Linked DNA regions of Homo sapiens. The protein of the gene in region 3 purifies or fractionates together with the protein of the main gene of each other region. This does not show direct contact. Each region holds a gene or a part of one and is shown on either strand. Other genes may lie near its edges. The genes, in order: NCAPD2, FNBP1 and GOLGA3.

Evidence for each region.
Region 1: the proteins of GOLGA3 (region 3) and NCAPD2 fractionate together in Homo sapiens (co-fractionation; one large-scale study listed by BioGRID). This does not show direct contact.
Region 2: the proteins of GOLGA3 (region 3) and FNBP1 fractionate together in Homo sapiens (co-fractionation; one large-scale study listed by BioGRID). This does not show direct contact.

Annotation. Positions count from the first base shown.
Region 1 is NC_000012.12:6,500,534-6,504,184, reverse strand, and holds part of NCAPD2 (condensin complex subunit 1), read right to left. Parts: intron 1-3,651. UniProt on the Homo sapiens protein: Regulatory subunit of the condensin complex, a complex required for conversion of interphase chromatin into mitotic-like condense chromosomes.
Region 2 is NC_000009.12:129,889,811-129,893,212, forward strand, and holds part of FNBP1 (formin-binding protein 1), read right to left. Parts: intron 737-3,402; coding exon 729-736; 3' UTR 1-728. UniProt on the Homo sapiens protein: May act as a link between RND2 signaling and regulation of the actin cytoskeleton. Required to coordinate membrane tubulation with reorganization of the actin cytoskeleton during the late stage of clathrin-mediated endocytosis.
Region 3 is NC_000012.12:132,822,330-132,825,980, reverse strand, and holds part of GOLGA3 (golgin subfamily A member 3), read left to right. Parts: exon of another isoform or gene 1-300; intron 301-874; exon of another isoform or gene 875-1,062; intron 1,063-3,651. UniProt on the Homo sapiens protein: Golgi auto-antigen; probably involved in maintaining Golgi structure.

The DNA.
Region 1 (3,651 bases), about 130 Mb from region 3:
ATGTATATATATATGTCAAAACTGAATGAGATAGTCCATGCAAACCAGTCAGAACAACACTTAGCACGCTGTATGGTTTGAATGTGCCCCTCATAATTCATGTGTTGGAAATATAATCCCCAACATGACAGTGTTGGAAGGTGGAGTCTAATGGGAGGTGTTTAGGTTATGAGGGCTCCACCCTCACAAATATATATACATATTTTTGAGACGGAGTCTCGCTCTGTCGCCCAGGCTGGAGTGCAGTGGCATGATGTTAGCTCACTGCAACCTCTGCCTCCTGGGTTCAAGCAATTCAGTGCCTCAGCCTCCCGAGTAGCTGGGATTACAGGTGCCTGCCACCACACCTAGCTAATTTTTCTATTTTTTAGTAGAGACGGGGTTTCACCATCTTTTTTAAAAAAAAAAAAAAAATAGATGGAGTCTCGCTCTGTCACCCAGGCTGAAGTGCAGTGGCACGATCTCGGCTCACTACAACCTCCGGCTCCCAGGTTCAAGTGATTCTCCCGCCTCAGCCTCCTGAGTAGCTGGGATTACAGGCACGCGTCACCACACCCGGCTAATTTTTTGTATTTTTAGTAGAGACGGGGTTTCACCATATTGGCCAGGCTGGTCTCGAACTCCTGACCTTGTGATCTGCCCGCCTCGGCCTCCCAAAGTGCTGGGATTACAGGTGTGAGCCACCGTGCCCAACCCCTCACCGATATATTCATACTATTATAAAAAGGGCTCTGGGGAGTGGGTTCACTTGTGCCCTTCTGCCTTCTGCCCTGTGACAATGCAGCAAGAAGGCCCTTGCCAGTTACTGGTGCATTGATTTGGGACTTCCCAGTCTCCAGAAAAAAATGTGAGCCAATAAATTTCTTTCATTATAAATATCCAGTCTCAGGCATTCAGTTATAACAGCATATTTTTCTCAGTCCATTTTCTATACATCGTATTTCCATTGTTGAGCTTGTATCACATATTCACTTCTCTGTCATGCTTTTTAAAATTTAGCATTACAGTAAGTGTATTAGAAACCTTTGTAGGCCAGACGTGGTGGCTCACGCCTGTAATCCCAACACTTTGTAGGCTGAGGCAGGTGGATCATCAGGTCAGGAGTTCGAGACCAGCCTGACCAACATGGTGAAACCCCGTCTCTAATAAAAATACAAAAAAAAAAAAAAAAAAAAAGCCAGGTGTGGTGGCATGCGCCTGTAATCCCAGCTGCTCAGGAGGCTGAGGCAGGAGAATCGCTTGAACTGAGGAGGTTGCAGTGAGCCGAGATAGTGCCACTGTATTCCAGCCTGGGTGACAGAGTGAGACTCCGTCTCAAAAAAAAAGCAACAACAACAACAACAACAAAAACACCTTTGTAAACAATTTTTTTTGAGACAGGGTTTGTTGTGTTGCGCAGGCCGAAGTGCAGTGCAGGATCATAGCTTACTGCAGCCTCAAACTTCTGGGTTCAAGCGATCCTCCTGCCCCAGCCTTCTGAGTAGCTGGGACTACAGGCAGTGCCACCACACTCGGCCTTATATCTATCTTAATTTACTATTCCCCTATTGTTAGATACTGTGATACTTGTAACTTATTCCACTAATTAACAACAACAACAACACATACTCCCCTGGCAAATCTAGGTTAAACCAACTTTCTGGTTACTCCATTCATGTGACCACACAAATAAAAATGGCCTGAGAAAAACACAGAAACAAGCTGACTAGTCTTACGTTAAACTCATGACTACTAACCTGAAGTGGGCATTCGTACTCCCAAGTCTATTCGTTTTCTTCTAGGCAATTATTTCACACCTATCCTCTGCTCATAACACCATGACCTTCTTCCCAAACTCACTCTCAGTTAAAGGCTTTCCCTTCCTATTGAGGAAACAGAAGCAGACAGAAGAGAACTTTCAACTGCCCCAAGCTCTATATTTACCTGCACTAGTTGCATCTATGCCCATACATACACTCTGCCTTTTTTTTTTGCTACTGTGGATAAACTGTCCATGTTCTGATAAAGCCATCTCCTCCCCGTGTACCAGATCACGTACTCTCTTACCTACTAAAGGCACTGCTCCAACAACTGTTCCCTCTTCCTTCTGCAGCATCAGCTTTTCCCTCTCTGATCATTCCTACTCAATATAGACACACATAATGCTGCCCATCTTAAAAGAAATACATTATGTAAATTCATCATCTCTAATCTCTGTCATTCCATTTTCTTAAAAACCTATTCCTAGCAGGCTTTTGCCCCCACCATCTCCTGAAACAGCTTTGTCAAGGTTACCAGTGACTATGACATCAATAAATCCAGTAGTTAATCTGCAGTTGACCTCTCTTTTGTTTTTGAAACACTCTCTTTATTTAGCGTCCATTTAGCTCCTTCATTCGCTTTCTGCCCCAATGACTGCTTCTTAATTTCTTCTACTGGTTCTTCTTCATCCTCCTAGCCTCTAAATGCTGGACTGTCTCAGGTCTTGGTCTTCAAACTGCTGCTCTTCTCCATCTACACTCACTGCAATCTCATGGCTTTAAGTGCTGTCTACACGCTGAGTATTAAATCCTAAATGTGTATCTTTAGCTGACAACCTCTCCCTTGAACTCTGCACTCACATAACCAACAATCTAAACCTCTCCCTCCCATATGCTACCCCATCTCAGTAAATGGCAACTTCATTCTTCTAGTTGCTCAAGTCAAAAAGCCTTGTAAGGCCGGGTGTGGTGGCCCACGCCTGTAATCCCAACATTTTGGGAGGCCGAGGCAGGCAGATCACTTGAGGCCAGAAGTTCAAGACCAGACTGGACAACACGGCAAAACCGCATCTCTACTAAAAATACAAAAATTAGCCAGGTGTCGTGACCCTGGGAGGCGGAGCTTGCAGTGAACCGAGATGGTGCCACTGCACTCCAGCCTGGGCGAGAGAGCGAGACTCTGCCTAAAAAAAAAAAAAAAAAAAAAAAAAAAAAAAATTAGCCAGGCGTGGTGGTGCACACCTGTAATCCTAGATACTCAGGTGGCTGAGGCATGAGAATTGCTTGAACCTGGGAGGCAGAGGTTGCAGCGAGCCAAGATCACGCCACTGCACGCCAACCTGGGTGACAGAGCCAACAGAGCAAGACTGTCAAAAAAAAAAAAAAAAAGCCTTGTAATCATTCTCATCTCAGATTCCTTTACTAACCCTATAATCCAATCCAATCCATCAGCATTCCTGTAAAAGCTCTACTTTGAAAATATATCCTGAGTCGTTTTATCACCACTTCCCCTGCTATCCCTCCAGTCCAATCTACTTGGTATTACTGTATTAGCCACTTAACTAGTATCCCTGCTTCTCTCCTTGCCTCTTATAGTCTCTGCTCAACACAGTCGCCAGTGAATCTTTTAAAATGTCAGACCATGTCACTCCCATGCTCAAAACCCAATGGCTTTCAAGTTCATTCACACTGAAGTTCAAGTTTTTGCCATGATCTACGAGGCTCTAGAGATCAGTGCTTCTCAAGCTTATAATTGCATCCAAATTGCCTGGGGGAATCTTCTTAAAATACAGATTTCCTGATTCAGCAGCTTTGACATCCTGGGCCTTGACATCCTGCATTTCTAATAAGCTCCCAGATCATGAGATCCTGATATTAACACTGCTGATCTGAGGACCACATTTTGAGGAGC
Region 2 (3,402 bases), on a different chromosome or scaffold from region 3:
CCAGTGTGGACCTCCCCAGGCCACTGAAAACAGGGCGTCAAACCAAAATGTGTGTATGCGCACGCGTGTGTACTGGTGGGTGTGCCTGTGGGTGTGTGTGTACCTGCCCCCCTGCCTGCCAGATGCTCCCAGGTTGAGGGCATAGTGAAAGGGTCAATGTTTAGTATGAGGTGCAAGCCTAGAATCCAAAAAGGACCACTGAGGACTTCACAGACTCAGGAGAGGAGGAAGTGTTTTCTACAGCAGACAGTCTGGGACACACGGATGACATCGACACGGATGACATCGAGTGCTCAGTCCGCCTGATGTGCGCTGGACCTGCCTTGTCTCCTCAGGGGACCCGTGATGACACTTTCACAAAAGGCACTGTGTGAAGCGCGGAAGGGCTGCCAGGACGAGCCCGGGTGGACTGAGGGCCCAGGAAGGAGCAGGTAGGGGCGTGTGTCCCACCGTCTCAGTGGCCTGCGCGGGGTGGGGAGGGGGAGCGATGAGGACTGACCCGAGCCATGGGGGTGGGCGCTGGCGAGACTTGTCCCCCACGAGGTGGCCCGGGCTGGGCGGGAGGGCAGGGCCGCAGGGAGCATGCTGGAGAGAGAGAGAGACCGCCCCGCAGGGATGGGGCTGCGGAGGGGTGGGCTGTCCACAGGGCAGGGCGCTGGAGGCCTGTGGGAACAAGCAGACGGAGGCTCCTCCAGGAAGGCTCACCCGAGGCTCGCAGGCACTCCCCTCTAGGAATCTACAACACAAAGAGAAACAGAAAGAGAAACTCTCTGTTAGAGAGGAAGGCGCGGGTTCCAGGCGGGCATTTTGCTCTTGGCTACAAACTGCACCGCCCTGGGAGGGGAGGGTAGTGGGAGGGGAGGGATGGGAGGGGGCGTCTTAGAGCAATCGGTTACCACAGGGCGGGTCTGAGATGAGGAACTTTCACGGTTTTCTCTCTAGCCTTTAGCTGGTCTTTCCTTCAGAGTTAAGAGAAGCCCAAACAGGAGACTGATGAGGCCATCCGCCCCAACTCGTCTTTCTCATAAGTTTAGTTTTGAGAGAAAGTAAGAAACGGAGGCCGGGGCTGGGCGCCGTGGCTCATGCCTGTAATCCCAGCACTTTGGGAGCCTGAGGCAGGCAGATCACGAGGTCAGGAGTTCAAGACCAGCCTGGCTAACATGGTGAAAACCCATCTCTATTAAAAATACAACAATTAGCCTGGCGTGGTGGCAGGTGCCTGTAATCCCAGCTACTTGGGAGGCTGAGGCAGAAGAATCGCTTCAACCCAGGAGGCGGAGGTTGCAGTGAGCTGAGATCGGGCCACTGCACTCCAGCCTGGACAACAGAGCAAGACTCCGTCTTAAAAAAAAAAAAAAGGAAACGGAGGTTGGGTGCAGTGGCTCATACCTGTAATCCCAGCACTTTGAGAGGCTGAAGAGGGAGGATGCATGAGCTCAGGAGTTCAAGACCAGCCTGGGCCACAACATAGCCAGACCTCATCTCTACAAAAAATTAAAAAAAAATTAACCAGCATGTTGGCATGCGCCTGTAGTCCCGGCTATTCGGGAAGATGAGTTGGAAGGATGGCTTGAGCCCAGGGAGGTCGAGGCTGCAGCGAGCCAGGATCACACCACTGCACTTCAGCTTGGGCAACAGAGTGAGAATTCAACTCCAGAAAAAAAAGAAAAGAAAAGAAATGCATCAATTTCCTAGAATGGTACAAGGAACATGAAGGTCCAATTCTCTCAGAAGGAAACTCTTGGCTCTTCAGCAGTACAATGTAAAATCTTTGGTGAAAAGGAAAACCTGTTGTTCTGTATTCATTCCGCAATAAACCGTGAAAAGCTCTTCATCTCAAGGAGAGAGAAAAGAAACAAAAGAAACACAGACTTCTCAGGCCCTGAGTGCACGCAAGATCAGAAACAGGGGAGGTGCCATCATTTAAAGGAGGAGGTAGGGGTGGGAGGCAGAATTTTTAAAAAAGCATTGGGCTAGAAAATCCCCTATTACTGGAGATGAAAGAGTTAAATATTCATATTACACAGAATAATTTTCTTGGAAACATGAAAAGTCACTTAAAATACACAATACTGAGAAAAAATATAACATTTATTAGAGAAGCAGATACGAGGGTACAACTAAAAGATGCCAGACAGAGTCTTTTAGGATAAGAATAGAAAGAGACAATCATGTTGCTGTATTCAAACAAAACTTACTCAGAACCCCAGAGTTTATAATAAACTCAAGTGCGGAGCCGCAGCGGGGACCTAGCTCCCCATGCGAGAGGCTTCGCGGCTTTCCGGCAGTTATAAAAACAGAAAGGTCATTAGGCAGCAGGAGAACCCATAAAACAAACAGATAAAAGTACAACATTAAAACAACTCATTCGAGTACTGCTTTTAGTTTTTAAGTTGCAGTATATACACACGTATTCTGTGGGGGGAATTATGAAAATATTTAACAGAGAGCAATCGAAGAACCAAAAAACCACAAAAGAAAGTCACAATCCAATTGACCCACCGGAAGTTACTCTAGTCTAAATATTTTGGCAATTATTAAATAAGCACATCGTAGACACACACACACACACACACACACACACACACACACACACACACACACACAAAAAGGTTGACCGGCATTATAAAAATAAAACAGCTGCACTGAGTTATGGGCCTAAGAAAACAGTGGCTTTGCCCACATCAGATGGGTTGAAGGAGGGCAGTGTTTGTGGGCAAGTTGGACAGAGTTATAAACAGAGTAGGCAGGAAAAGCTTCTCTGTACATATTATTAATCTCTAAGTGTAACTTTCAAATAAAAGGAGAAAATTATATAAGTAGCTGAGATTTTGCTGCTTTTATATTAACAGACAACTGCTAGAAGATAATAAAGTATACTTTGGGTGGAAATGGAAATTCCTGATTCTTTGGAATTTGGTTTTCTAATATTTCATGCATTGATGCGATGGACCTGAAATTTACAAAATATCTTTTAACTGTTTAGTCAATATTACAGAGATTCACCTGTTATAGTACTGAGGCATACAACTTAATGATCGTACATTTAAAATTATCATCATAAATTTATGTGCCCAAACCCCTCCCACCCCATTCCCCCTGAAACCAACTGAGCTATTTTCTGAATTAAATTTGAATAACGAAATAAATTTGAATAATCAAGAAAAAAATACACAGCTTGACAGAATGCCTTTTTTCAAAGCAGACTTTCACAAGGTTAATGTCGTCTTGCCCTATTTTCGAGTTTTTCAGTGGTTAGTTTGCTTTGTCCAGGAGTTCACAGACTGGAAATGAGTTTGTCATCGGATAGAAAGGTCAGATTTTAATACCTTAGGTTTCCCATTCACTTGTTTACTGGGTAAAGCTGGAAACTTCCTACTGCTCATTTAAACAGATCCTTGT
Region 3 (3,651 bases):
GCAGGTAGTCTCGGCGGATGACAGTGGTCCTCTGCGTCTTCATCTTGGTCACCACGCCAGAGAGGATCCGCCCTCGAATGGAGACATCACCAGTGAAGGGGCATTTCTTGTCAATGTAGGTGCCCTCAGTAGCCTCTTTGGGTGTCTTGAAGCCCAGACCAATGTTCTTGTAGTACCGCAGGAGCTTCTCCTTGCCAGTTTCTCCCAGCAGGACCCTCTTCTTGTTTTGAAAGATGGTCGGCTGCTTTTGGTAGGCACGCTCAGTCTGAATGTCCGCCATCTTCCCGGCCACTGAAAAAAGGTGCTCTTCCAGTTTCTAACTCCCTGGACTCCCTCATTGGAACTGAAGCTCACAGATGTTTCAGCTGGACTAGTTTAGACTTTGCTGTATTTTAAAAGGCAGTGTTGATGCTCCAGGATTCAAATACTTAATCATTTTGTTTTGGAACCATTAGCTTTGTAGCAGAGGAATGTACTCAGCAGAATCAGCAGAACTGAAGATTTAATTCGGCAAATTAAACCTGTGTTGGCACTTTAGGAGTTGGGAGTGTTCAAGGTGGTGGGAGGCAGACGGGGAATGAGTCTCTGTCTTCAAGGATCTCGCCATGTAATGGGCACACACGCAATGGCAGACATGACGTGCTGTGGTGGAGGCCACGTGAGGTACAGTGATGGCAGAGGGGGTAGACGAGACACTTTACCTGCGGGGCCAGGAGGGTCTGCACGCGCAGGCACACACCGTCGGTTCCTTTACCTGAGGGGCCAGGAGGGTCTGCACGCGTAGGCACACACGGTCGGTTCCATATAATCACCCCACCCCCGCAAGGCAGAAGCAAAGACATCACAAAGCAAAACGCAAGTTTTCTTTTGCTAGGAAATTTTCAAGAGGACCAGATGTACAGGGTACCAGTATTCAGTGGCGCAGTCGAGTCCACATTCCACCGCGTGTAGTCCTCCGTGCCAGTTTGTAATTCATCTGTCAAAGGGGCAAGCCTGTGATAAGCAGCCATCATTTTGCTGATGCTCCTCCCCTTGTTTTGTGGGTGTCTTCTCCATTCCCAGGTGGGCGTGGCCGGCTGACCCCCAGTTCTCTTGGAGTGTGTCTGGGATTGTAGCTGAGGGGCAGGCTTGGTGGAGATCGCAGTGTTTTTCCTGGAAAGTGATTTTCAGAGGGTTCTGTGCTGTGTGTAAGGACAGGTGTGTAGTTCAGATCCCTGCCTAGGCTCTAAGGCCCATTTATCACCCACCCACCCGGAAAATCCAGGGATGAGAGATGTTACTAGATGATCATAGACGCAAACATGAGATTGAGAATTCGTTGCACACAGGATTAGCTTTTGACCAGCCTTGGTAACTTCCTTCACTTCTGTGCTTCAGACATTGCTTTAATCTTTAAATATTTTTATGTGCCAGGCACCCTGAGTCAAGACATCTAGGATCCTTTGTTTACAGTAGTTTCTTGATTAGCTATGCGAGATTTATAGTTACTAATGTTAGGACACATTTCTATTCACAGTGCTTTCTGGTTACAAACCCTTAATGCTAGTTTTACACTAATAGCATACGTAACCTTTTAATATTCTGAACAACACTGTTATGAACTCATAACTGTCTCTGGCCTGTAGGATGCAAGGTGGCAGAGAGGAATGGTGGATTATTATAGTTATGAGCAGATACTCACAGGTCTGCACGCCCTTCAGTGAGTCATTGACTGTGTCAGTGGACTGGGTTACACCCACCACCCATAGGTTTCCTCTTTTACGGGTGACCAGTCTAGATGGCAGGTAGAGTAAAAACCCCTAGAAAGACAGGCACGTCCTGCTGCGGGGTCAGTGACACACATGCTCTCGAGGACCAGCCACGTGGGCTTCTCTTTTTTTTGTTGTTTTTTGTTTTTTGAGATGGAGTTTTGTGCTTGTCTCCCAGGCTGGAGTGCAGTGGCACAATTTTGGCTCACGCAACCTCTGTCTCCCAGGTTCAAGCGATGTTCCTGCCTTAGCCTCCTGAGTAGCTGGGATTACAGGCACGCGCTGCCATGCCTGGCTAATTTTTGTATTTTTAGTAGAGACGAGGTTTCACCTTGTTGGCCAGGCTGGTCTTGAAATTCTGACCTCAAGTGATCCACCCACCTTGACCCCCCAAAGTTATGGGATTACAGGCATGAGCCATCACACGCAGCCCTTTTTTTTTTTTAGACGGAGTTTCCACTCTTGTTGCCCAGGCTGGAGTGCAATGGCGTGGTCTTGGTTCAGTGCAACCTCCGCCTCCCAGGTTCAAGTGATTCTCCTGCCTCAGGCTCCCAAGTAGCTGGGATTACAGGCGCCTGCCACCACGCCTGGCTAGTTTTTTGTATTTTTAGTAGAGATGGGGTTTCACCATGTTGGCCAGGCTGGTCTCAAACTCCTGACCGCAGGTGATCCGCCCGCCTTGGCCTCCCAAAGTGCTGGGATTACAAGCATGAGCCACCGCACCCGGCCCCATGTGGGCTTCTTGTCTATACCTTCTGTGTGGGATTTGTAAGCTAGAGGCGAAGGTTGTGTAATGTTTCTCATGAAAAATGTTAAACACAGAACATAATGTAGGTTAATATGAAACTGATTTTAAAGGAATAAATGCCAACATTTCTGCAGAATGAATGGAAGCTCATGCTAGTGTCTTACCTGTTGATAAGGAAATGAGTTAATAATATCACCAGCACATTTCAGGGTGGATAATCACTTGCCAAATGTTGGGCAAAGTTTTGCTCCCCTGAATGTAGCCCGGCAGGGCAGGCTGAGAGAGCTAACCCAGCTAGAGGTAAAGACGGGAACGGGCCCTGCCGTGAGATGCCCTTTCTGTGCCCCCACTCCAAGGCAGCTGCCTTTCTGGTGTCCTTGTACACCCTGTATAGAGTTACCACATCCCATGGCACCTGCTTTTTAAAGTTTTGTTTCTCTGGATCTGAGTTGTCCAACCTGAAGGGGTGGGGCTGCCGGCAGGAGCCGTGGCCTTGGGCAGAGTCACTCACTAGCTGAGAGGGGGGCCTGTGAGTCTGGTATTGTAATTTTTAAATTGTTTTTGAGATGGGGTCTCCCTCTGTCACCCAGGCTGCAGTGCAGTGGTGCGATCTCAGCTCACTGCAACCTCCGCCTCCCGGTTTCAAGTGACTCTCCTGCCTCAGCCTCCCGAGTAGCTGGGATTACAGGTGTTCACCACCACACCCGGCTATTTTTTGTATTTTTAGTAGAGGTGGGGGTTTCACCATGTTGGCCAGGCTGGTCTTGAACTCCTGACCTCAGGTGATCTGCCTGCCTCGGCCTCCCAAAGTGCTGGGATTACAGGGGTGAGCCACCGCGCCTGGCCCAAATTAATTTTAAATAAAATTTAAAGCTCAGTTGCCCTGTGTGACACCTACTCCACAGATTCAGAGCTGCGCTGTCCCAGCAGAATGTTCTTTAGTTGGCACCGATACAGACATTAAGCTCCTTCAGGAAAGGGCCCAGTGTGGCTGGGTCAGCATCTTAGCCTCAAAACCTAGGATGTTGTGGGTGCTCCAGGATTATTTGCTGAATGAAAAAGTTTGTATTTGTTTCTTGTACGTATGCAAATTGGGAACCAAATGCTAATTTTGTAATTGATACTTGAAATCTGACAAGTTTCATAATACATTTT